Homo sapiens: one gene and its partners. The protein of the gene in region 1 interacts with the protein of each later gene in a pairwise test. Each region holds a gene or a part of one and is shown in the gene's direction. Other genes may lie near its edges. The genes, in order: GLIS2, ZRANB1, LATS2, FOSB, OIP5, CRX and RBPMS.

Evidence for each region.
Region 2: the proteins of GLIS2 (region 1) and ZRANB1 interact in binary tests that used the Homo sapiens proteins (3 or more experiments, as listed by UniProt).
Region 3: the proteins of GLIS2 (region 1) and LATS2 come close enough for resonance energy transfer, tested with the Homo sapiens proteins (one large-scale study listed by BioGRID).
Region 4: the proteins of GLIS2 (region 1) and FOSB interact in binary tests that used the Homo sapiens proteins (3 or more experiments, as listed by UniProt).
Region 5: the proteins of GLIS2 (region 1) and OIP5 interact in binary tests that used the Homo sapiens proteins (3 or more experiments, as listed by UniProt).
Region 6: the proteins of GLIS2 (region 1) and CRX interact in binary tests that used the Homo sapiens proteins (3 or more experiments, as listed by UniProt).
Region 7: the proteins of GLIS2 (region 1) and RBPMS interact in binary tests that used the Homo sapiens proteins (3 or more experiments, as listed by UniProt).

The regions. Positions count from the first base shown.
Region 1 is NC_000016.10:4,319,067-4,322,566, forward strand, and holds part of GLIS2 (zinc finger protein GLIS2), read left to right. Parts: intron 1-3,500. UniProt on the Homo sapiens protein: Can act either as a transcriptional repressor or as a transcriptional activator, depending on the cell context. Acts as a repressor of the Hedgehog signaling pathway. Represses the Hedgehog-dependent expression of Wnt4.
Region 2 is NC_000010.11:124,966,123-124,969,622, forward strand, and holds part of ZRANB1 (ubiquitin thioesterase ZRANB1), read left to right. Parts: intron 1-471; coding exon 472-659; intron 660-3,500. UniProt on the Homo sapiens protein: Ubiquitin thioesterase, which specifically hydrolyzes 'Lys-29'-linked and 'Lys-33'-linked diubiquitin. Also cleaves 'Lys-63'-linked chains, but with 40-fold less efficiency compared to 'Lys-29'-linked ones.
Region 3 is NC_000013.11:20,988,587-20,992,086, reverse strand, and holds part of LATS2 (serine/threonine-protein kinase LATS2), read left to right. Parts: intron 1-682; coding exon 683-815; intron 816-2,782; coding exon 2,783-3,500. UniProt on the Homo sapiens protein: Negative regulator of YAP1 in the Hippo signaling pathway that plays a pivotal role in organ size control and tumor suppression by restricting proliferation and promoting apoptosis.
Region 4 is NC_000019.10:45,470,996-45,473,337, forward strand, and holds part of FOSB (protein FosB), read left to right. Parts: intron 1-198; coding exon 199-306; intron 307-1,555; coding exon 1,556-2,017; 3' UTR 2,018-2,342. UniProt on the Homo sapiens protein: Heterodimerizes with proteins of the JUN family to form an AP-1 transcription factor complex, thereby enhancing their DNA binding activity to gene promoters containing an AP-1 consensus sequence 5'-TGA[GC]TCA-3' and enhancing their transcriptional activity.
Region 5 is NC_000015.10:41,312,183-41,315,591, reverse strand, and holds part of OIP5 (protein Mis18-beta), read left to right. Parts: intron 1-2,237; coding exon 2,238-2,319; exon of another isoform or gene 2,320-3,409. UniProt on the Homo sapiens protein: Required for recruitment of CENPA to centromeres and normal chromosome segregation during mitosis.
Region 6 is NC_000019.10:47,820,677-47,824,736, forward strand, and holds the start of CRX (cone-rod homeobox protein), read left to right. Parts: upstream 1-1,260; 5' UTR 1,261-1,334; intron 1,335-4,060. UniProt on the Homo sapiens protein: Transcription factor that binds and transactivates the sequence 5'-TAATC[CA]-3' which is found upstream of several photoreceptor-specific genes, including the opsin genes.
Region 7 is NC_000008.11:30,391,041-30,394,540, forward strand, and holds part of RBPMS (RNA-binding protein with multiple splicing), read left to right. Parts: intron 1-3,500.

The DNA.
Region 1 (3,500 bases):
TCTAAGGGGAGGCCCAGGGGTCTCTGGCACCTAAGGAGGAAATTGATTCCATGGGAGAGGCCCTGTGCTGGGTGGAATTGGGGCGGGGGTGGCTGCAGAGAAAAGTGTCCCCTGAATCCCTTCCTCTCCTCATGGCTATAATTGTTACTTTATTTCACAGCAGGTGACTGAGACCACAGGGGAACCCCGGAAGGTCCTGGGTGGTCTTCCCCTCACCCAGATAAATGCCCTTCTCAGGGGTAGGGGGCATCCCCAGCTTGGCGGGGCTGTGTATTGAGCAGTAAGAGACCCTCTCCCTGCTGGCTAGGGGATCTGTGGGACCAGCTGAAAGATGCTCTCCACCCTCTGCCTAAGTTGCCTCCCTTCCCAGGGGCTATGAAAGGGTCCACAGAGATGGGTTGAGGCCCTGATGTGTATCTGGGGGTTCACGTCTCTGGGAACTTGCGCCCTGCCCCAGCCTGCTGCCAGCCCTGGGTGTGGGGACCACAGCCCTAGCGAGTCTCCCGGGCCACATCTGCCTCTCAGTGGTTTCTGAGGTGGCCGCCTCCGCCCCACCCTGGTGAATTCTAAGTCAGGCGTGGCTGGGGGCGGGGACTCCGCGCTTCCAACAAGCACCTCTAGTACTCTGCTGGGGGGCCAGCGTGGGGGCACTGCTTTGATCCCAGGGACTGGAGAGGGATCATGGTGATGATGGTGGCAGGGTCTGCAGGGCACAGCCTGGAGGAGACCCAGGTTTCTCTCCTGGCTCCGGCTTAGCCCCTGGGTGAGGCTGGGCAGGCACGGAGGCCGGGTACTCGCCTTCCACTCCCCCACTCCCCCAGATGGGCTGGAGGATTCTGGTTAGCTGGTGGCCAGGCTAAGTGGGCCTGGGGGGCATGGAGATGGGAAGTGATTCCAGCTGAGGGGTGGGGGCTTCCCATCTGCCCCAGCAGCCCCTGCTGGGGGATGGGTGGGGGCTGAGACTCTTCCAGTTCGATGGCTGGGGGGCGGGTGACTTGGGCTCCTCGTGCCCTTTGTCTTCGGTGCTTGAGAGGCCAGGTAGTGCCCACCGCAGGGAGGGGCCGGCCTGTGAGTGTCACATGTGCGTGCACACGGACTCCAGCCTTGGCAGATGGCTGCCGGGGAAGGGACGGAGACCCAGCCCTGGCCCCTTCCTCCAGTCATGGCCAAGGGCGGGTGGGAAGCCAGCAGAGGCCCCAGGAGACCGCTGAGTGGACTGAGTCAGCCCCCGGCCGGGAGCCTCCGGAAAACAGTCCTGCCCGTCACATGGAGGGTCCCCACCGCTGGCACAGCACGCTCCCAGGGCAGCCTCGCTTGGACCCTGGTAGTCAAGAGGTCGTCGGAGGCCGGTGGGGGGAAACTGAGGCTCTGAGACATTTGAGGGTTTGGCCCGAGGTCACTCCCAATCGGGGAAGAACAGAGGGGAACTGGAGTCTGGGGCTGTCTGGCCCTGACCCCTGAAATGTCGGTTTAGCCTGGGAATCCCCCCAGCTCCACTCCTGCCCCCCACGTCCACTGCAAGGGCATGACGGGGGCCAACGTGTCTGGAAGAAGCCTCTCCCCTTCCCTGCATCGTCTGCCTGGGGCTGTCTAGCAAGTCCCGGCCTGCCTGGGCCAGTTCTCCCCTGGGCCACTCCCACCTTCATCCAGAGCCCCCATTCCCCACCCCAACTTCCAGGCAGACCGACTCTGAGCTGGGATGTCCCCTCCCCGCAAGGCTGTAGGGGCCTCCATTGTCCTCCCTATTCTGAAGTCCCCCCAACCCTGTGCTGGTGCTCGTCTCCCTGCCAGCCCCGGCCTCCCCCAGCACCCCCCGGAGCACCTAGTGGTCACCCTGCTTGGTTCTAGGGCCACTGGGCCCCGAGGGCCTGGAGCCACCAGGCCTGGCAGATCCTGCCAGTGGGTGTTCCCCTTTGGAAGGAAAAGGACCTCGATGGCTTTGGAGGCTGTCCCCGGCTTCTGGACTTGCTTTCTTCCAGAGTAGGCGAGCAGAGAGGGGCGGGTGGCTGAGGAGGAGGGCATGGGCTGGAGTCCTGTGTGTGCGGTGCCCTGCTGGGCCTGCTCTTGCCCAGCTATCTGGGGCTGGGGGCCAGGGCTGGGAGGGCGTGGCAGGAGATGGAGCTGGGGGGGATCTGGGCCCTTCCCACCATCCCAGCTGGCCAGGGTGGTTCCTAGGGGCCACCACACCCTTGTCCAGCTCTGTTCCTGGGTCCCTTGCCTGGGACAGGGAGAAAGAGGCATCTATGTCAGGAGACCAGCCCCTGCTTCTAGCCTTGACCTTGGGCAAGTCACATTCCTCTTTGGGCACGAACCCCTCCATACCTACCCCTCCCCTCCTCACTTGGGGGTAAAGGCGGGAATGTCTGTCGAGTGAATGAATACATGAATGAGACGGACTCATTCGCGGAGTGCCAGGTGTTGGGATATGTGAAGGGCAGGTACCACTGTGCCACCTAAGATGAGTGGTTGGGGTTGTTGGAGCTTCGGCTGTCCTCTCAGCAGGCCCCCTCCTGTGGATGGGGAAACCCAGGCCTAGTTTTCTCATTCTGGGTTCCCTGCCTCACTGCCCAGTTCACTCTGGTGGATGGGGTGGGCTCCGTGCCAGGGGCCGTGGGAACTGGGGCAGGGGTCTGCTGGTGAGGCCTTCTCTTCAGTAGCCACAGCGGGTTTGGAGCTGCCCGGCGTCCCAGACATGTCCCGGCCCACTCCCAGGCTCCCTTCTTGGAAGGAGGCTCTGGATACCAGGGCCAGTGGGAGGCCTGGGGCTGAAGGTCGGCGCTGTGTACACCACGCTGTGCACAGGTGACACTGGCTTCAGTGATGCATTGGCAAGGACTTGGACCCGGGACAGCCTGCCTCCAGCGGGGGTGGACAGAGGCAAGTCTTTGCCCAGCAGGCCCTCAGGTACCTGGACCCACAGCCTGTGTGCAGCTCCAGAAACCGAGGCTGGGGAGGGTGAACCAGGGAGCACTTGGTGGAGGAGGGGGCAGAAGGGGATGGTGGCTGGAGGAAAGAGAACAGGGGGGCATGGATGGTGGTGAGGGAGGAGCTGGCACCTGGGAGCATCAGGTTCCCAGGGGGCAGGGGATCCTGAGGAAGGGGGGTGCCAAAGGAGAGGGCCTGGGGCAGGAGGCTCTGGGCTGAGAGAGCAGGTGGCACTCTTCTGTGTAGAGCCCTCTGTGGCTCCCCAGTGCCCTCTAGGTTCTGTCCCAGCCTCTCTGAGGGGCCTCTTTCTCTCCTGCCTCCTCGTCTACTCCATGACTGGTAGGGTCACTGCAGATCAGCCGGGCCATAGCCTCTGGTCCTCTGTGGCACTGGGCTTTGGGGTCTGCTGGCGAACCCAGCTGTGCCCCTTGCTGGCTGTGACAGTGGCAGGTTTCCCCACATGGAAAATGGGGAAAATGGCATCCATTCGCGGGGTCATCAGGGTGATGGACTGTGTGCAGCAGGCATGCTGACCGGGCGCCGACCCGCAGGGCTCCCACCTCCCCAAGGCTCTT
Region 2 (3,500 bases), on another chromosome or scaffold:
ATGGAAAGCTCAGCATTTGTTTTGATTCTGCTTTAAGAATGCAGTGTAAAGGGCAGGAGGAGCTCAACACCAGCTGGAAGCACATCCCTGTCTCCTTGGTTTCTGCAGAGTCAGGATGAACGCAGGACCGGAACCAGGGGCTCAGTGTCTCTTGTTACGTCTGGTTTCTCATACTAGATTATTGATCTTCGATCCAATTCATGCAGCCTAATAGTTCCTCTAAATCTCACCAGAGCCTGGAGCCTGCACTGATGGTAAGGTAAATGTCTAGGCAGTTCTAGTTCTGGAAGGAAAATTTTTAAAGGGAAAGGAAAAAACTTATTTTCCTTACTCTTATAGGACATTTAAATGATGCATCAGGATCCAGGAAGCACAGAGAAACACTTAAAAGATTTTGGAGTGATTGCTACGGTTTGTGTTTTTTGAAGAAAATGAGAATTAAATGCTTTTCTATCTTGATGCTTGTTTTAGGGGTTGTAGAAGGTGATTTAGCTGCCATAGAAGCATACAAGTCATCAGGAGGAGACATTGCACGTCAGCTCACCGCAGATGAAGTACGCTTGCTGAATCGTCCTTCTGCCTTTGATGTTGGCTATACTCTTGTACACTTGGCTATACGTTTTCAGAGGCAGGATATGCTAGCAATATTGCTTACAGAGGTAAGTTTGGCGTTTTGGTTAAATGTTCTTTTATATTAAAGAAACCTGTTCTTTAGTTTTCATTTTTGATTTTATAATGTTTCTCTAAGCAGCTTTAAAATGTTTTGAATTCTTTTACCCCCTTTTAAAAATAACATTAAACTTAAGAGACTTAATTTTTAAGGGTATATGCTTTCAAATATTTGAATAGTCACAACAATGTTTGACTCATCATGTTTGGTTCATACAAACCTGGGATGTATCTGTCATTCTTTAGTCATTCAATTAACAGATATTTATTGTGCATTTACTGTGTGCCATGCACTAGGCTGAGAAGGGATACAATTGTAAAGATACTGGCTCTTTCTTCATTAAATCTCCAGCAAAGTAGAGAAATGAACAGGTAATTCTGTGCAGCCTGTGCCCTGGTAGATGTAAATGCCAAGTGTTATGCCAGTACTTGAAGAGTTTTGAGGTGTCTTGTCGTCTTTCTTATAGCAGGTAATGTTTTTGCTGCAATTTGAAGAGAAAGAGTTAGGAGTTAGCCACATGAAGTGGATAAGGGAGAGAAGGGAAGTTGAGGAAAGCATTTTTACAGGGGGCAGAGATGGTGGAATTTGTGGTGAATCTAGGGACTTGCAGGTAACTAAGCATGGCTGAGATGGTGATTGGGAATGGAGAGAAGGGAAGTCTGAAAGATAAGCAGAGGCTGGATTACGAAGGATCTTCTGTGTCAAGGAATTTGAAGATTATCCCTAGGCACTGGATGGTGTTAGGTATGGGCGCAGGGGAGTGAGCAGAGCAGATTGTGTTTTGGCTGCTGCACACTGGAGAGGGGTGAGCCTGGTTAGGAGGGAGTTGCAGAGGTGCTGGCAAGAACTTCTGCCAGAAGGGCAGAAGGGTAGCCATAGAAGGGTACCCAGAAGGGTAGCCTTAGAAATGGGAAGAGGGTTAGAGGGTTGGAGAGACTGAGACAGGCCCTCAGTCTGAAGAAGTAGACTGATTGGATATGGGAAGATACAGTGTGGATGTAAGTTGATTCTTCAGTTTCTGGCTTACATAACTAGGTACATGCTACCAATGATAGAGATTGTGTATGAATTATTCAGAATGTGACTACATTATCCAGGTTTTTTTTTTCTTTCTTTTTTTTTTTAAGCTGGAGTCTCACTCTGTTGCCCAGGCTGTAGTATAGTGGCACGATCTTGGCTTACTGCAGCCTCTGCCTCCTGGGTTCAAGCGAGTCTCCTTTGTCAGCCTCCTAAGTAACTGGGATTGTAGGCACATGCCACCATGCCTGGCTAATTTTGTATTTTTAGAAAGGTGGGGTTTCACCATGTTGGCTAGGCTGGTCTTGAACTCCTGACCTCAAGTGATCTGCCCGCCTCGGCCCCCCAAAGTGCTGGGATTATAGGCATGAGCCACCGTGTCTGGCCAAGGTAACATTTTTTAATGGTAAGAGAAATAGAGTAAAAGTGCAGAGAGTCATATTAATTGTGGATTCAAATTTTGTCAGTATACATCTTTCATATATACTTTTGCATATTTGTTTATTCAAATTTGCCAATATTTGGGAACCACTGCAGGGCACTGTATGGGGATTAAAAAATTTGAAGGTTAGATGGAAACATGATTGTAGTAGCTAACCCCTGTGTCCAGTTTGGTAAGATTCCAGTGAAGCCGGGGTGGGGGGCTTGAGAGACTGAAGGCCATGATGAAAACAAAAGGGCAGGCTTATTGAGTATAAGGGAGAAGGGAACTTTTCAGATAGAGGGATCCAGGTTTTGGAACATGAGATAGAAGAATTGGAGTTTTTCTAGTGTCGAAGGCCTGGCTGCATTTGTGTTGTGGTGCCTAGTTGTGTTGTCTATTGTATATTGGAAGGGCTGTCAATGTGGAGTTGTAGTTGCTGGTGGTGACAGGAGCCAGGATAAAGAAGGTGGTTGTGAACTAGGGTGAAAGTCTTAAGGGGCTCCCCTAAAGGTAGGTAGAAGATTATTACAAGGTTTTAGAGGGGCCATTGTGAGTCATTGAGCTCCTGAGACAGTCTGAGGAGTAACAGTGGGATGATGATCGAACATCAGTATATTTATTGCAGTATCACAGATTGTCTGGAAACTTAGCAGCTAAGACAACAAATGTATGTTATCTCACAGAGTTTGTGAGGGTTAGAATCCAGGAGCTGCTTAGCTGAATAGTTTTGGCTCATGATGTCATGAGGTTGCAGTCAAGTGGTCCAGGGCTGTAGTTGTCAAAAGACTCAACTGGGGCTAGAGTATCTGTTCCTAAGCCCACTCAGGTGGCTTTTGGCAGGAGGCTTCAATACTGTGCCATGCAGGCCTGTCTACAGGGATGCTCATGATACAGCAGCTGGTTTTACCCCCAACAAGTGATCCAAGAGAGGCACAGAGTACAAGAGAGTGATCCAGTGTCTTTGAAACCTGCAGTGTCTTTTATAAATTGATTTAGGAAGCAACATACCATTACTTTTGCTGTATTCCGTGGGACGTGTAGAACAACCCTGGAACAGCGTGGGAGAGGTGGAGGGGATTTGTTCCAGGCAAAGAGCAAAATTGGTCATGGATTCAGTCTCCATGGAGTAAATACTCCAAAGGACAGAATTAAAGGGGCCAGTAGGGAGACTGGAAGTGGGGGAGTCTGGACTAAGTCTAGACTAAGGGGGTGTGTTGCAGAGAATGCTCAGCCAAGTTCTTTTGGAATGAGAACAGGAGAACATTAGAGTTGGGGATATGTATGTGGGGCAGGAATTTTCATCGGTTTCTGTGTCATGGACCATGTTGGTAGTTTCATGAAACTTATGGACTCCTTCCCAGAATACTGTTTTTAAATACAAAAAATAAG
Region 3 (3,500 bases), on another chromosome or scaffold:
CTGTGGCCCTCATCCATTTTACCTGCCCTCTCCCGTGGTGGCCACCAGTCCCTGTGTTCTTCCCACAAGCAGTTTGAGCTACCTGTCCTGGACCGGTGTGGCTCCATGGGCCCCTGTTTTGTCTCCTTTCTTTCTTCTACGAGTCAGATCTCTAAGGGCCAGTCCTCCGCTGCTATAGCCAGCATGGGGCATTGTAAACAGTAGGCGTGTAATATATGACTCTTCGGCAGCTGCACCCTCTCCCTGGGGACAGGTTTCCTAGTCCCAGAGTTAGCCTGGAGGTGAGCTGAGGTTAAAGCCAGGTTCCCTGACTCCCACAGTTCTTCCCCTTAAATGTTTCTAGTTTTAGGTTCATCCTGAACTCACCAGTCCAACCACAAAAGTTTTCTGAGGAGAAGCAGAATTTAAGTCTCTTTCAGGCCCATCATCAAAATTCCCATATGTCCTTGACATAAGGCTAAATAGTCTATGGTGTGGCTTGTGCTAGGCTTTTGCCATCAGGTACCTGCAGGGCACACAGCCACCTGCACTCATTCTGAGGGTCTCCTGCAGCATATCGCAGGTTCTCAGCAGTACAGAGGCGAAGTGTCCCAGCACAGTCCAGCACGGAGTGGGGATGGGAGTCTTTGGTGGCTTTGTTTTAGGATGACATGCACTTACCTCTCCTTTACTTCCCTCCCAGGAGATGGCTGGCCGAGCTCTCAAGCAGACTGGCAGCAGGAGCATCGAGGCCGCCCTGGAGTACATCAGCAAGATGGGCTACCTGGACCCGAGGAATGAGCAGATTGTGCGGGTCATTAAGCAGACCTCCCCAGGTGAGCCCAGGCCTGCAGCATAGTGGGCAAAGATGGTTTGTGGCTTAAGGACAACAAAACCACGTGCAGAGGGGTCCAACCTGGCCTGGCCTGGCCAGAGCCAGTCTCCTGGCACATTGCCTCATTCAGTTAACAGGCAAGCTGAGCCTGCCCTGCCCTGACAGAGTCAGGCCCTGGCGGGAGCAGCCCCAAGTGGTAGACCGTGGGACACGCCTGGCGCTTGCCCCATCCAGCCTTGTCTGAAATTACCTTAGTACTTCCTACCTAGGGGAAGGTGTGTGCTTGTTTTATGAAAGATCAAAAAAGTCAGCAAAGCGGGCGTAAAAATGGTCTTTTCACTTTCTCTTGGGCCTGTGGAGGGATCTTTGACAAGGGTGGCTTCTTTCCTCAATTCTAAAACACACCTCTCTCACATCGTAGCTTCTGAGAGTGGGGGTTCAATGGCAGGCAGTGTGGGCAGAGCGCTGGGCCCCCCTCAGCATCCCCTGTGATGGGCCTGAGGCACCGCACCAAACCCCTGCTTTTTACTGGCTATGGATGAATGTTACTTTCCCAAGATGGAGCACATGGGCCCTGTGATTGGTACCTGAGGCCCCTGGGGTGTGATAAAGGATTCATGGCCAGGCGCAGTGGCTCAAGCCTGTAACCCAACACTGTGTGGCCTGGTTTTGTTTTGCTTTGTTTTGTTTTGTGTAATCCCAACTCTTTGGGAGGCTGAGGCCAGAGGATGGAGGCAGGAGTTGGAGACCAGCCTGGGCAACAGAGGGAGACCTCGTCTGTATTTAAAAAAAAAAAAAAAAAAAAAAAAAATCCTAGTAATTAGCAAGAGTTTTCCCTATTTTGTGGAAGACCTTGGATAAAACCTACTTCATGTGGGTGAGAAAAATCTCACCTTTGTAAGTTATATCTCCATTGTTAAAAGGACACACATTTTTGTTTTCTTCTTAAGAGAAGGAACTTCCTTAAATAGCCCCCAGCTGGCCATCCATGTCAGAATTCTTCCAGTTTTGAGGCCTTAGAGCACAGCTCAAAGGGAAGGCCAGGCCCATGTTCCGTGCTGATTTCCCTCTGCACTTGCCTTTGGTGTGTCTCTTCACTGACGTCTTCTGGGCCCAGGGAAAACAAAGCCTTGGTGTGCCTGTGACCTTTGTTCAGTGCCAGGCTGTCAGGGCCTTCACTCTGCCAGGTATCGGGGTGGTCTTCCTGTGGGCAAGGCCCAGCCTTTCCACCCTTCGGCACCCTCTGCTAAGCCGAGCCAAGTGGAGCAGTTGGCCTGAAGAAATGAAAGGAACCTTTGTCCTTCCTTCCGGTGTCTGTTTCAGATGAGATGTACAAAATGGAGGTCAGGATTAAGGTAGCAGCAGATGAAATCAATCTGGATATTTGTAGAGGGGTTTTGTGTGGTTTTTATTATTGTGTATATATTGCTTTGTTTTAATATAGACAAAAAAAACTAGAAAGTCTTTTAATTTGGAAAAGAGGTGAAAGAGAAGTGGAGCAGCTGCTGCACAGTGGATACAGTTCTGCCCTTTCTGTGAGGGAGCAGCGCTTTGGGAACCGTGTGTCGGTAAACTCAGCCCCCCACAATTTGGGCATGATAGGGTTTTGAAAAAGCAAAGCTGGCTATGCAGACGGCTCCCTAGCCTGACAGGAGAGTGACCCCAGTGTGGTCCCCAGGGGGCAGGGACGCACCTCGGGATGTGGACGCAGTCTTCTCTTCTGCCCTTGGCCCTCCCATGTGCCCTTCAGCTTGTCTCCACTCTGCTAACACATTAGGGCAACTGGTCCTGCTGGCAGGGCAGAGGGGAGTCCACTGACCCTGTGCTGGGCAGAATGCAGCACGTCAGGGCCCAGGGTTCAAGACCCTCAGCCCCGAGGGCAGCGCTAGAGTGGGGACCAGCCTGGAAGTGCCAGAACCCACTGATCACACCCACTCTGATGCTGTCTTCCTGTTTTTTCCACTGCAGGAAAGGGGCTCATGCCAACCCCAGTGACGCGGAGGCCCAGCTTCGAAGGAACCGGCGATTCGTTTGCGTCCTACCACCAGCTGAGCGGTACCCCCTACGAGGGCCCAAGCTTCGGCGCTGACGGCCCCACGGCGCTGGAGGAGATGCCGCGGCCGTACGTGGACTACCTTTTCCCCGGAGTCGGCCCCCACGGGCCCGGCCACCAGCACCAGCACCCACCCAAGGGCTACGGTGCCAGCGTAGAGGCAGCAGGGGCACACTTCCCGCTGCAGGGCGCGCACTACGGGCGGCCGCACCTGCTGGTGCCTGGGGAACCCCTGGGCTACGGAGTGCAGCGCAGCCCCTCCTTCCAGAGCAAGACGCCGCCGGAGACCGGGGGTTACGCCAGCCTGCCCACGAAGGGCCAGGGAGGACCGCCAGGCGCCGGCCTCGCTTTCCCACCCCCTGCCGCCGGGCTCTACGTGCCGCACCCACACCACAAGCAGGCCGGTCCCGCGGCCCACCAGCTGCATGTGCTGGGCTCCCGCAGCCAGGTGTTCGCCAGCGACAGCCCCCCGCAGAGCCTGCTCACTCCCTCGCGGAACAGCCTCAACGTGGACCTGTATGAATTGGGCAGCACCTCCGTCCAGCAGTGGCCGGCTGCCACCCTGGCCCGCCGGGACTCCCTGCAGAAGCCGGGCCTGGAGGCGCCGCCGCGCGCGCACGTGGCCTTCCGGCC
Region 4 (2,342 bases), on another chromosome or scaffold:
GAGGCAGGAAGTTTCTTATGAATGGAGGGGGGCTCCACTAAGGCCTCAGTGTTACAGAAACCCCAAGATCCTTGCTACACGAGCGAGGACCGGAGGCTTGTTTTTTGGCTCTTGGGGGTTCTGAAAGAAGTAGAGGTTCGGGATGGGTGGAGGAGTGCTGTATCCCCAAATCTCATGGCCTCTATCTCCCTGACTCAGCTCACCCCAGAGGAAGAGGAGAAGCGAAGGGTGCGCCGGGAACGAAATAAACTAGCAGCAGCTAAATGCAGGAACCGGCGGAGGGAGCTGACCGACCGACTCCAGGCGGTGAGGACAGGCCCTGGGGTGGGAGAGGGGATGTTGAGGGGAGCTCTCTCCCCATTCTCTGCCCCCTCTCCACCTGTACCCTTATCCTGGGTTGAGAACTAGACGTTCCACACATGGAACTAGGTACTGCTGTGGCCAGACTGGGTAGCCCAGGGCACAAACACAGACCCCCATGGACTTAAGTCAACTCCTGGTCCCCCCCCCATTTCCTGACCCCACGGACTACTCTCCTAGCCTTCATTTCATCCCAAGGGGCCACATGGGGCCCTTGAGGAGAGGGGCGCCCCCATCATTTCTCCCATCTGGTCTTCAGCAAGTAACAACCCATTTTGCCTCAGTTTCTCCATCTCTGCAAACCCTCATCAAATCTCCCGGGCTCTTTCTACCCTTAACACTCTGGAAAGCCTGTGAAATGAAATTATTCCACCTCCTGCCCTAGCCACCCACAGCTCTCCTGGTGCTGGTGGCATCCCCCAAAACCCACTCCCTTCCTACGTCCTCCCTTGGTCTGAGAGTTCCCTGCTGTATGCCTGCAGGGTGAGCTGTTACTCCTTGAGGGAACAAGGGAATTGTCAACTTTCCTTCTCTACTTTTTCTCTTCCCCGGGAGGTAGAGAGGGAGGGGTAATAGAAGGGAACACATTAAAAACACATAACAGTGGCTCATGCCTGTGATCCCAGCACTTTGAGAGGCCAAGGCAGGAGGATTGCTTGAGCCCAGGAGTTTGAGACCAGCCTGGGAAACATAGGGAGGACTTGTCTCTACCAAGAAAAAAAAAAATTAGTTGGGCATGGTGGTGCACACCACTGTGGTCCCAGCTACTATGGAGGCTTTAGTGGGAGGATCGCTTGAGCCGAGGAGGTCCAGGCTGCAGTGAGCCATGATTGCACTATTGCACTCCAGCCTGGGGGACAGAGCGAGACTCTGGCTCAAAAGCAAAACAAAACCAACCACATAACGATTGTTCATTCATTCAACAAACCTCCTGCACACCAGAAACTTCCCCATAAACCTGGCCCCTTCTGTACCATCCTTTGGACAGATGGGGGAAACTGAGGTTCCTGGAAGGCAAGACCCTTGCCCCAACTCCCATGGCCACCAGGACTCCATCTCAGGAGGTGTTTTTTCTCAGCCCGGGGCTGCCTTCCAGCAGCAAGTCCAAGGGAGCCATGACCCGAGTTTCCCGGTCACTGACATGCTTTTTTCTCCTTCCTCTCTCTCTTCTGTGACCTGGCCTCCCTGGCCTCAGGAGACAGATCAGTTGGAGGAAGAAAAAGCAGAGCTGGAGTCGGAGATCGCCGAGCTCCAAAAGGAGAAGGAACGTCTGGAGTTTGTGCTGGTGGCCCACAAACCGGGCTGCAAGATCCCCTACGAAGAGGGGCCCGGGCCGGGCCCGCTGGCGGAGGTGAGAGATTTGCCGGGCTCAGCACCGGCTAAGGAAGATGGCTTCAGCTGGCTGCTGCCGCCCCCGCCACCACCGCCCCTGCCCTTCCAGACCAGCCAAGACGCACCCCCCAACCTGACGGCTTCTCTCTTTACACACAGTGAAGTTCAAGTCCTCGGCGACCCCTTCCCCGTTGTTAACCCTTCGTACACTTCTTCGTTTGTCCTCACCTGCCCGGAGGTCTCCGCGTTCGCCGGCGCCCAACGCACCAGCGGCAGTGACCAGCCTTCCGATCCCCTGAACTCGCCCTCCCTCCTCGCTCTGTGAACTCTTTAGACACACAAAACAAACAAACACATGGGGGAGAGAGACTTGGAAGAGGAGGAGGAGGAGGAGAAGGAGGAGAGAGAGGGGAAGAGACAAAGTGGGTGTGTGGCCTCCCTGGCTCCTCCGTCTGACCCTCTGCGGCCACTGCGCCACTGCCATCGGACAGGAGGATTCCTTGTGTTTTGTCCTGCCTCTTGTTTCTGTGCCCCGGCGAGGCCGGAGAGCTGGTGACTTTGGGGACAGGGGGTGGGAAGGGGATGGACACCCCCAGCTGACTGTTGGCTCTCTGACGTCAACCCAAGCTCTGGGGATGGGTGGGGAGGGG
Region 5 (3,409 bases), on another chromosome or scaffold:
AGAAACTTTGGCCTTTTCCTCTTGGATTCGGGATGGCTGCTGCAATTACAGTCATTACATCTATTGATGATAGCATCCTAAACATGAAGGAAAAGGATATGGAGAGTATGGGAACACAAGAAAATTCCCCCTTTTCATCAGCATAAATTTTTTTTTTTTTTTTGAGACAGAGTCTTGCTCTGTCACCCAAGTTGGAACACAGTGGTGTGATCTCAGCTCATTGCAACCTCCGCCTCCCAGGTTCAAGTGATTCTCCTGCCTTGCCTCCCAAGCAGATGGGACCACAGGTGCGCTCCACCACAGCCTGCTAATTTTTGTATTTTTATTAGAAATGGGGTTTTACCATGTTTGCCAGGCTGGTCTCAAACTCCTGACCTCAGGTGATCCCCCCGCCTCGGCCTCCCAAAGTGCTGGGATTACACGCATAAGCCACTGCGCCCCGCCAGCATAAATTTTCTTAATCTTTTTTTTATTCTTTTTTTTTTTTTTTTTGAGACAGGGTCTCACTGTCACACAGGCTGGAGCGATCATGGTTCACTGCAGCCTCAACCTTTTGGGTTCAGGTGATCCTCCCAACTCAGCCTCCCAAGTAGCTGGGACTACAGGCATGCCACCACATCTGGCTAATTTTTGTATTTTTTGTAGAGATGGGGTTTCGCTGGCCAGGCATGTTGGCTCACAGCTGTAATCCCAGCACTTTGGGAGGCTGAGGCAGGCGGATCACTTGAGGTCAGGAATTCAAGACCAGCCTGTCCAATATGGTGAAACCCTGTCTCTGCTAAAAATACAAAAATTAGCTGGGCATGATGGTGGGCACCTGTAATCCCAACTGCTTGGGAGGCTGAGGCAGAAGAATTGCTTGAACCTGGAAGGCGGAGGTTGCAGTGAGCCGAGATCTCGCCATTGCACTTCAGCCTGGGTGACAGAGTAAGACTCTGTCTCAAAAAAAAAAAAAAGAGATGGAGTTTCGCTATGTTGCCCAGGCTGGTCTCAAATTTCTGATGTCAAGCCATCTGCCTGCCTCAGCCTCCCAAAGTGCTGGGATTATAGGTGTGAGCCAGCACACCCATCCCATTTTCTTACCCTTGTTGGCCAGAACTATGTCACATGATCACCTCATCTGAGAAAGCAAATATGTAACAGTAGGCTCATGGCAAAAATCTGGATTCTGTTGGCAATAAAGAAGTGAGGAAGGCTGGGCTCGGCTCACGCCTATAATCCCAGCACTTTGGGAGGCCCAGGCAGGGGGATCACCTGAGGTCAGGAGTTCGAGACCAGCCTCGCCAACATGGTGAAACCCCATCTCTACTAAAAATACAAAAATTAGCTGGGCGTGGTGGCGCAAGCCTGTAATCCCAGCTACTCGGGAGGCTGCGGCAGGAGAATCGCTTGAACCCAGGAGGCAGAGGTTGCAGTGAGCTGAGATTGTACCACTGCACTCTAGTCTGGGCAACAGAGCGAGACTCCATCTCAAAAAAAAAAAGTGAGGAACAGCTACTGGGAATAGGTGACCAACACTATGTCTCATACTGGGATTACTTTCTTTCAAACTGTGCTACAGGATCCTACTGATGAAGTGTAAAGCTTATAATCATCGTAATTATTCATATGAGCCTGGTTTTTGTCTTTAATTTACCCTGAGATAATTTTGTCTCTGGTGGGATGCGGCAGAGATCCTCTCCAATTTGTTTATTTTTGAATTTGTTTTTCCAAGAAAATGCAGTCATCCTTCAGTATCTGTGGTTCCAGGACCTCACCAGATACCAAAATCCATGGACACTCAAGTTTCTGATATTAAGTGGTGTAATATTTGCATATTACTTTTGGATATCCTCCTTTTTAAAGTATAAAAGTATATATTTTATACTTTAAAATAATCTCCAGATTACTTATGACAGCTAACGTAATGTAAATGCTATGTACATTACAAATTTACATAGGAAATTTACAAAGTTGTTGTAATGTTAAGGGAATGATGACAAGAAAAAGAGTGTACCTGTTCAGTACAGACACAATCCAGTTTTTTTTTCCTGAATATTTTTAGTCTGTGGTTGTTTGAATCCATGGATGCTATACCCATGGATATGGTGGGCCAACTGTAACATCATGAGTCTTGAAATGAAAATCATTAAGAAGCCAGGCTTTTTTTGACACATACTTTCTTTAGAAGGTAAGTTTGGTTCTTTTATAATCTTAACCATGGTATGACACTAATATTTTTCTTTTTTCCTATCTAGCTATCTCTTAAAAACAAAAGCCATAGTAAATGCATCAGAGATGGATATTCAAAATGTTCCTCTATCAGAAAAGATTGCAGAGGTAAAATTTCATGATGGTTGTATGCTTTTTTAAAATACAGACAACTCTTGATAACTTCTACCAATGAACTTGGGGATGATGAAATGGCATGATGCTCAATAATCCTTTTTACTTGATTTGACCTTCCCTATTGAATTTGTAATGAAAAACAAAATACTAAAACCACACTGTAAGGTATAGTTCAGGAAGAAAGGAAAAGCTGCTCAACTGCTGCACTCCTGCATTCTCCTTTGTGCTGGGAATGGATATCATCATCTTGCCATAGAGGTGTCTTCTTTGCAAATACCTTGTAATTGCTCAACTGTCTCAGACATAAGAGTGATGAAACAGTTATTAAGAATTCCTGGCCGGGCGTGGTGGCTCACGCCTGTAATCCCAGCACTTTGGTAGGCCAAGGCGAGCAGAACATGAGGTCAGGAGATGGAGACCATCCTGGCTAACACAGTGAAACCCCATCTCTATTACAAATACAAAAAATTAGCCGGGCGTGGTGGCACGTGCCTGTAGTCCCAGCTACTCGGGAGGCAGAGGCAGGAGAATTGCTTGAACTGGGAGGTGGAGGTTGCAGTGAGCTGAGATTGCGCCACTGCATTCCAGCCTGGGCAACAGAGCAAGACTCTGTCTCAAAAAAAAAAAAAAAAAAAATTTAGCCGGTCATGGTGGTGGGCGCCTGTAATCCCAGCTACTTAGGAGACTGAGGCAGGAGAATCGCTTGAACCCAGGTGGTGGAGGTTGCAGTGAGCCGAGACTGCGCCACTGCACTCCAGCCTGGGCAACAGAGCGAGACTGCGTCTCAAAAAAAAATAATTCTTGCCTGGGCGTGGTGGCTCACGCCTGTAATCCCAGCACTTTGGGAGGCTGAGGCGGATGGATAACCCGAGATCAGTAGTTCGAGACCAGCCTGACCAACATGGAGAAACCCTGTCTCTACTAAAAATACAAAATTAGCCGGGCGTGGTGGCACATGCCTGTAATCCCAGCTACTTGGGAGGTTGAGACAGGAGAAGCACTTGAACCTGCGAGATAGAGGTTGTTGTGAGGCAAGATCATGCCATTGCACTCTAGCCTGAGCAACAAGAGTGAAAATCTG
Region 6 (4,060 bases), on another chromosome or scaffold:
AACAGAAGGACATGGAGGCTGAGGGAGAGGGGAGAAAGAGCAAGATAGACAGGGAGACACAGAGAAAAAGAATAAGAGAGACCAAGGGGATAATGCAGGTTTATCAACAGAGACAGGGACGGAGAGGAGCAGATGGAGAATGAAAGAGTGGTATTCAGGAAAGTAGGCAGAAATGCCACAGCCTAAGGCCCACAGGAAAAGAAACTGAGGTACAGAGAAGCCAGACAAAGACCAATGGTGTGTAGAGAGATGGTGAGTGCTGGGTTTGTTGGCTCACGCCTGCAATCCCAGCACTTTGGGAGGCCGAGGTGGGAGGATTGCTTGAGGCCAGGAGTTTGAAGCCAGCCTGGGCAACATAGAGCGACTCCATCTCTACGAAAATAAAAAAATTAGCTGGGCATCGTGGTATGTGCCTGTAAAGTCTCAGCTACTGGGGAGGCTGAGGAGGGAGGATCCCTTGAGCACAGGAGGTCAAGGCTGCAGTGAGCTGTGATCATGCCACTGCACTCCAGCCTGGGCGACAGAGTGAGACCCTGTCTCAACCAAAAAAAAAAAAAAGGAAAAAAAAAAGAAAAAAATCCCAAACCCCAAACTCCACCAAAAACAGAAAAACAAAACACCCTTTCTAATAAGTCTGCCTATTTTCAGTGCTGGAAGCAGCCCCTGCCACCTCCGCCCCCAAAAAGAGGAGAATATCATGTCTGACAACACAGAGACAGAGAGGCCACAGACAAGACTTGACCAAGTCAAAGAGAGAGAAACAGGGGAAACTGAGGCAGAAACCGAGACCAATGAGGCACTACAGAGATAAACTAGCTGTCGGACAGACTGTTGTGGAGAGAAAGGGGGACCCAGGAGAGGGATCCCGAAAGCTCCGTGCCTCTCTTTTTTCAGACGATCTCTCAGGACCATCTGACAGTGCTCTCCTTCCTCTTTGATGCCTCTCTCTTGGGATACTAGCTGAAGCTGGAGAGACACCAGTTAGACCTAAGGAAGGACTTCCCTGAGGAGTAGGGGCTTATGGTCACCGGCAGGAGCTGGGGCCTCCCTTCCCCATCAGCCCTAATTGCCAAGATGTCATGGGGGGAAGAGGAGGGGATTAAGCAGACGGGTGCCCCTCCCCCTCCCAGCCAATGTCACCTCCTGGTGCCCAGTCGAGTCCCCCACCTTGGCCGGGATTACCCTCCGAGTTCCAGGCCATGACAAATGACATCACTCCCGGCCCAGGCTTAAAATCTCCCCATGTGAGGGGATGTGTTTCCTTCAGCCTCTGCTGTCTGGCCGCTCTGTCTAGGTCCTGGGCCACGGGAGAGCCCCGTCCCTCCTTTCTGAAGGTGAGCGTCTGCAGGAGAGGCGGAGGGGACCGAGGAGGGGAGAAAAAAGAGAGGGGAGAAGTTGGGTTTATCTTATTCGTGGCTGTGTTTGCCGTGCTCTGCAGGTGATGTTTGCTGAATAGTCACACACAAAACAGAGGTGCCGTCCTGGCATTTGTGGAAACGGGGCTAGGCTGTGATTGCAGCAGGAGGGAGTAAGGTTAGACAGCAGGGACTGGCTGATGGCACTCGGGGCATTGGGAGGATTCAGGGTGGCTTGTGGGCAAGGGGGTCCCCTCAAGCCCTGACGGCATCCGGGGTTGGGGGCTTCTCACCGTGGTTCTAAGGCAACTCCTCAGCATACCGCTCTGTTGGATGTTCTTTAAAACTCTTAGCACTGCCTGAAATTTTCATTTGCGCGATGATCCACAAATGGCCTGTCTCCCTCCCTTGTTGAGCACTGATTTTTCCCCAGTGCCCAGCGTGTGGTTGGGATTTGCCTAAATATGTGTTGCATAGATGGATGGATGAATGACAGACAAGGGACGGAACAGACATATACGCAGAGAGCCCAGGTCTGTGGCTGCAACAGGAAGAACTCCGGGTGGACTTGGGCCTGCCCGAGAGAGCCAGGAATGTGATGACTGGGGATCACTGTGCTGGTGAATTGATCACTTAGGGCCTCAATGCACCCAGAGGCTCTGGCTTTCAGCCCAGGCTCTACTTCGGGACTGGGGAATCCTCACGCCCCCGCCCTCTTAGCTTCCAGCACAGTCACTCTCTCTGATCTTCTTTCTGCAAAGTTTTTTTTTGTTTGTTTTTGAGATGGAGTCTTGCTCTGTTGCCCAAGCTGGAGTGCAGTGCCACGATCTCCACTCACTGCAACCTCTACCTCCTAGGTCCAAGGAGTCCATCCACCTCAGCCTCTTGAGTAGCTGGAATTACAGGCGCGTGCCCCCATGCCCAGCTATTTTTTGTATTTTTAGTAGAGATGGGGGGTCTCTCCATGTTGTCCAGGCTGGTCTCGAACTCCTGACCTCAAGTGATCAGCCCGCCTGAGCCTCCCAAAGTGCTGGGATTATGGGTATGAGCCTCTGCGCCCAGCCGGTCTCCTGCAAAACTCTTGATTGACACCTTGTTTCCCGTCTGCCCCTGTCAGGAGGGCTGAGGCCTTGTCTGTCTTGCTCTCGGCTGTATTCCCAGTGCTTGGGTCAGTCCTAGACACACAGTGAGTGCTCAGTGAATATGCAGGGAATGAATGAATGAATGAAGGGCAGAAGGGTAGAAGCAGGTAGACAGACTGCCACAGAGAGGAGGTGTGATGCGGTTTTCCCAAAAGGAACGAGCGAGGGCTGTGATTGCCACAGAGTGAGGTCCGACTTCAGGGCTGCCCACTGTGTGTGAATTTCTGGATGCTTCAGGGATCACATTGTTGATCACGGAGTTGATTTGCTCAGGCTCTAACTGTGCCGTGGATCCCAGCTTCCCCCAGGTCTCATGGCCGGCAGTGGGTGCATCCACCCAGCTCCTTGTCCCCGCTGGACAGAGGAGCCAACAGAGGCTGCAGAGAGAGGCTGGAGTGGCTGACAAGGGAGGGCCCTGAATGTGGCTGAGCTGGGAGGGTCTTGCCAAGGGCTGGCATGAAGCCACATGAGTCTGGTTTTTTTTTTTTTTTTTTGAGACGGAGTCTCACTCTGTGGCCCAGGCTGGAGTGCAGTGGCATGACCTCAGCTCAGTGCAACCTCCACCTCCCAGGTTCAAGCGATTCTCCTGCCTCAGCCTCTCAAGTATCTGGGATTACAGGCGTGCACCACCATGCCTGGCTTATTTTTGTATTTTTAGTAGAGATGGGGTTTCACCTTGTTAGCCAGGCTGGTCTCAAACTCCTGACCTCAGGTGATCCACCTGCCTCGGCCTCCCAAAGTGCTGGGATTACAGGCGTGAGCCACCACACCCGGCCGAGTCTGCGTTTAAATCTTGTTCTTTTCTCACTGTGTGGCCTTGGACCCCTCATGTGGGCTCTCTGGGCCTTGGTTGCCTCCTCTGCAAAGTGGGGACAATGATAAGCTGTCACCATGATCCAGCCAGATGAGCCATATTGCAGGCCTGGCCTGCAGTGGGAGCAGGGCAGGAGACCAGCCTCATTCTGTTTCTAGGGTCCCTAGGTAGACTTGGGGGTGAAGAGCGGGGCTCGGGGGCCAAAGAGATTTAAATTTTACCCCTGGTTCTTCCACTCATCACCTGTGTGACCTCGGGAATTGACGAAACCTCTTTCAGCCTCAGTTTCCTCCTCTGAGAAAGGGACCTCTGAGCTCCGTGGGGCTGTGGGGAGCATCCTAAGAGGCCATATCGCCGGGTGATCAGGAGGGCACCGGCTCCGGGGCAGGTGCTGGCCCAGCTCTGGCTCTGCCGCTGACGTGCGAGACAGAACTGGAGACTACACTTCTCTCAGCCTCAGTTTCCTTCTCTGTAAAGTGGGGATGATACCAGAAGCCGCCTGGGAGGAAGTTTCCATGGAGTTACTGTTGCCTGAGATCTTGTTCCCAAGGTCCATGGTGCATGCAGTGTGTGAGAAGCTGGGGCCCCCTGGAGGTCCTTAAGGTCATCAGCCACCTGAACTGTGGGCACCTCCCTCCCTCCCAGGCTCAGTCTCCCCCGCTGTAGAATGGAGTTATCTGCATGTCTGCCCCACCAGGTGGCTGTGAGCATTCAGACCTCACCTGTGGGAACAACTGCTCAGCTGGGAA
Region 7 (3,500 bases), on another chromosome or scaffold:
GTCATTAGGAACCTCCATTTGCGAGCACAGGTGAGCCTGCCTGGTCCATCAAATAGCCACTGCTGGAAAATTACTTCCATCCCTTTGTCATTAGGAACCTCCATTTGCGAGCACAGGTGAGCCTGCCTGGTCCATCAGATAGCCACTGTCAGTGTGGGACTGCTTGTCCCAAGGTGCATTTGGGTTTTCACCATTAGAATTTGGTTTCTGCTGTGGAATTCCATTTGACCTTTTGGACGAGGGCTTCCAGAAGCCTTGGTTAGGTGGAAGAGCATGGACTCCCTGTGTTCCCAAACAAGCCTGCTCTGTGTGACAGCCACTTTGGAATGTTTGTGTTCAGTTTCATTTGGCACCTTAGTGTCTGCCTGGGGGTAGGGGAAAGGGAATGCAAATGTTCCTCTTGAACAGTGCTTGCTTTGGTCAAAGAAAAAAACTTAGGAAGGAATGAGGAGAATGAACCTTAAAAGCTGGTGCAGAAGTGGCTGCATAGCTCAGTGGGCTTGAGGCCATCTGGGACCAGGTATTTAAAATGGATGCTATGTTGGTATGAACAAGTCAGTTCCATGCCCCTGGTGGGGATGAGCTTATTTGTCATATGGGGATAACTCCTCACACTCACATCCCTAAAGTGTACCAGGAGAATATTGTAAACAATTTTATTGCACTATATTTTCTATGTTTGGCGGTGGAGGTGGGAGGTCCTTGATATTATCTGAAACATGAAGCTGAGTAAAGGGGATATGTCTGTGGTATCAGAAGAAAGCTGCTTGGCTTGTCAGTGTTGCTGATAGCAGGAAAAAGGAAATACTGAAATCTTTAGCCTGCAGAATTGTCAGAAATCTTTTTATCTATTCATTAAATAATTATCTCCTAACTTTTATTGAGTATTTACTATGTGCCAAGCTGATGAAGGGATTATGATGATTGTGCTGCTTTGATGGGGAAGTGGCTGAAGCCCTGAAAAGCTATGGAGCCAGGGTCTTCATGTGCAGATTCTAGAGATGCCAAGATCTGAGAGAGGCAGTTCCTGTCTTAAAGTTGCTCACAGTTTAATGGTGATGCCCCTGTATGAACAAACAGGTATAACCACGCCCGAGGTTAAAGTAGAGGTAGTTGAGTTGAGCACAGCCAAACCTGCAAGGAAGGGATGGAGCTGTGTCACAGAAAGCTTTAAAGAAGTTTAAAGAGTCAGTTCTTTAAAGATGACGTATGAGCTAAATCTCAGTTAAGATTTTGACTGATGAGAAAAGGGTTCAGACAGTGGGGAAAAGATGGGCTAGGCAAGGAAATCGCTCTGTGAATGAACACACAGAGGCTTCAAAAGACCCTTTTGGGGAAGAGCAAGCAAGGCATGGCAGGAGAGAAGAAGGGGAAGGAAGAATGAAACTGGGGAGGGGGCACTGGCCCACAGTGGGTGGAAGAGCTGCCTCTGCATTAGGGAATTGGACTTTGTCCTCTGATGGGGCACCAGGGTGGATGTGCCCCAGAAGGCAGCAATCTAGGACGTCCCAATGGGCAGGGGGATGTGGCGAATTTTGGAAAAGTTGTTGAGAACCATTCTTGCAGTGAGGTTTCTGCTGCAAGAGTCCTGGTCTCAAAGTGAGGCAGCAGCCTGGCAGTGGCAACTGAGGCAGAGATGCCAGGTGTTCAGGGCCTAGATAACTGTCAGATGTGCGGGAGAGAAGGCAAGGAGACAGCCTAGCAGCCTTTTGGGTTTCTCCTTCGGGTGGCTAGCTAAGTGACGGTTGTATTTGTAGGAATAGAAAATAGAGATGTGGAAAGGGTAAGAAAAGAAGGTACCTAGGAGATGAAGATGTTACTGAGTCTGGGGTGCAGAGGAGAGGTCTGATCTTGAAATACGATTTTCAGAACAATTCAAGAACATAGAGCTGATAATTGAAAGCGTGCATACTGGGAGTGAGTGCCCAGAAAATGGAATTCCTGCTTTCTAGGAAACGTTGTGAGGGTTAGCAAGGAAAGAGATACAAAATTTAGTGAAAATTTAGAGTCATGTTAAAAAGTGTTTGGGAAGGGGAGAGAATTGAAAATAATCAAGAAAAATGGAAACTTAAAAATTAATTTAGGAACATAAAAATGTATTACATATAATCTGCCTGTTTTTAAAGGGTTTGGTATACTTAGCCATTGGAAAGCCTGAGGGGGAGCTTAGAAAAATCTGATATATGGTCTTTCTCATATGCTTTTTTTTTTGCTTTGCTCAAAACTCAGGAACCTGTTTATAAACCTCCCAAACTTGCCATTAATTCCCAGGCTTTTACTTCTCCAACTCTCCATTTGCCAACCCTGCACCTAAAAGGAAAGATCAAGCTACCATAAAATCTGGAGAGGCGTGAGTTTTTTTACAGGAAAAAATTTCTAAGTTGCTTTTATCTTTTTTGACTTTTTTGGGGAAAAGGAAGAGTAGGATGAGCCTTTGGCCAGCAGCCCAAAGACATCTAATCTGTGGGTTATATTTTCATTTTCTTTTTTTTTTTTCTTTGAGACGGAGTCTTGCGCTGTCACTCAGCCTGGAGTGCAGTGGCGCCATCTCACTGCAACCTCCACTGCCTGGGTTCAAGCAATTCTGCTGCCTCAGCCTCCCAAGTAGCTGGGACTACAGGCACACGCCACCACACCTGGCTAATTTTTGTATTTTTAGTAGAGACAGGGGTTTCACCATATTGGTCAGGTTGGTCTCAAACTCTTGACCTCAGGTGATCCACCCGCCTCGGCCTGCCAAAGTGCTGGGATTACAGGCATGAGCCACCATGCCTGGCCATATTTTCATTTTATTCAATTTATACTTTAAAAGTTTGCTGCCTTTTTCAGCCCAGCTAAGTGTCAGCTCAAAGTAGTCCAGGAACTTAAAAAGAAAACAACTTGCATTTGTATTTCTCTTAGGTTTTAACTCTACTGCACCTATTATGGTGACGGTGCATATTGTGTAAATGCTAAAGAGAAAAAGGAAATGGCAGTGATAAATGCCAGTCACACCGAGAAGATGGATTCACATTCCAGGTTGTAATACAGTATTGTTACACAAATTTAAAATGCAAAGGGAATGCTTAGCCAGTTCCATTCTGTCAGCCTTTAGGGTTTTGCAAAGGTAGGAGACATCTGAGAATCTCCAAAATGAGGTCTGGCTCACCAACCTCTGCAAATAAGTTATAGGACAACTTTACTTTTAATTAACTTTTATTTCTCATGAGTTGATTTTTTTGTGACGTTCCTCTTGATTTTCCCAGATTCTCATGTCACCAGGGTAGATAGGCTGGCAGTGGCCAATGTTGTTCTAAGAGAAATCCTAAAGACTACCCAATTTTTTTTTTTCTTGAATCCGCAGGATCCTGTTTTGTGAAAATTCCTCTTACGCCCACCTATAGGATAGACAGTGGAGGCCCCCCCTGGGAGAAAGTGTACACAGAAAGTGCTATCTAATTACAGAAGTAGCAGAATTTCCTTTGTGCTCAGAGGGGAAGTGCTACAAAAGTGTAATTACT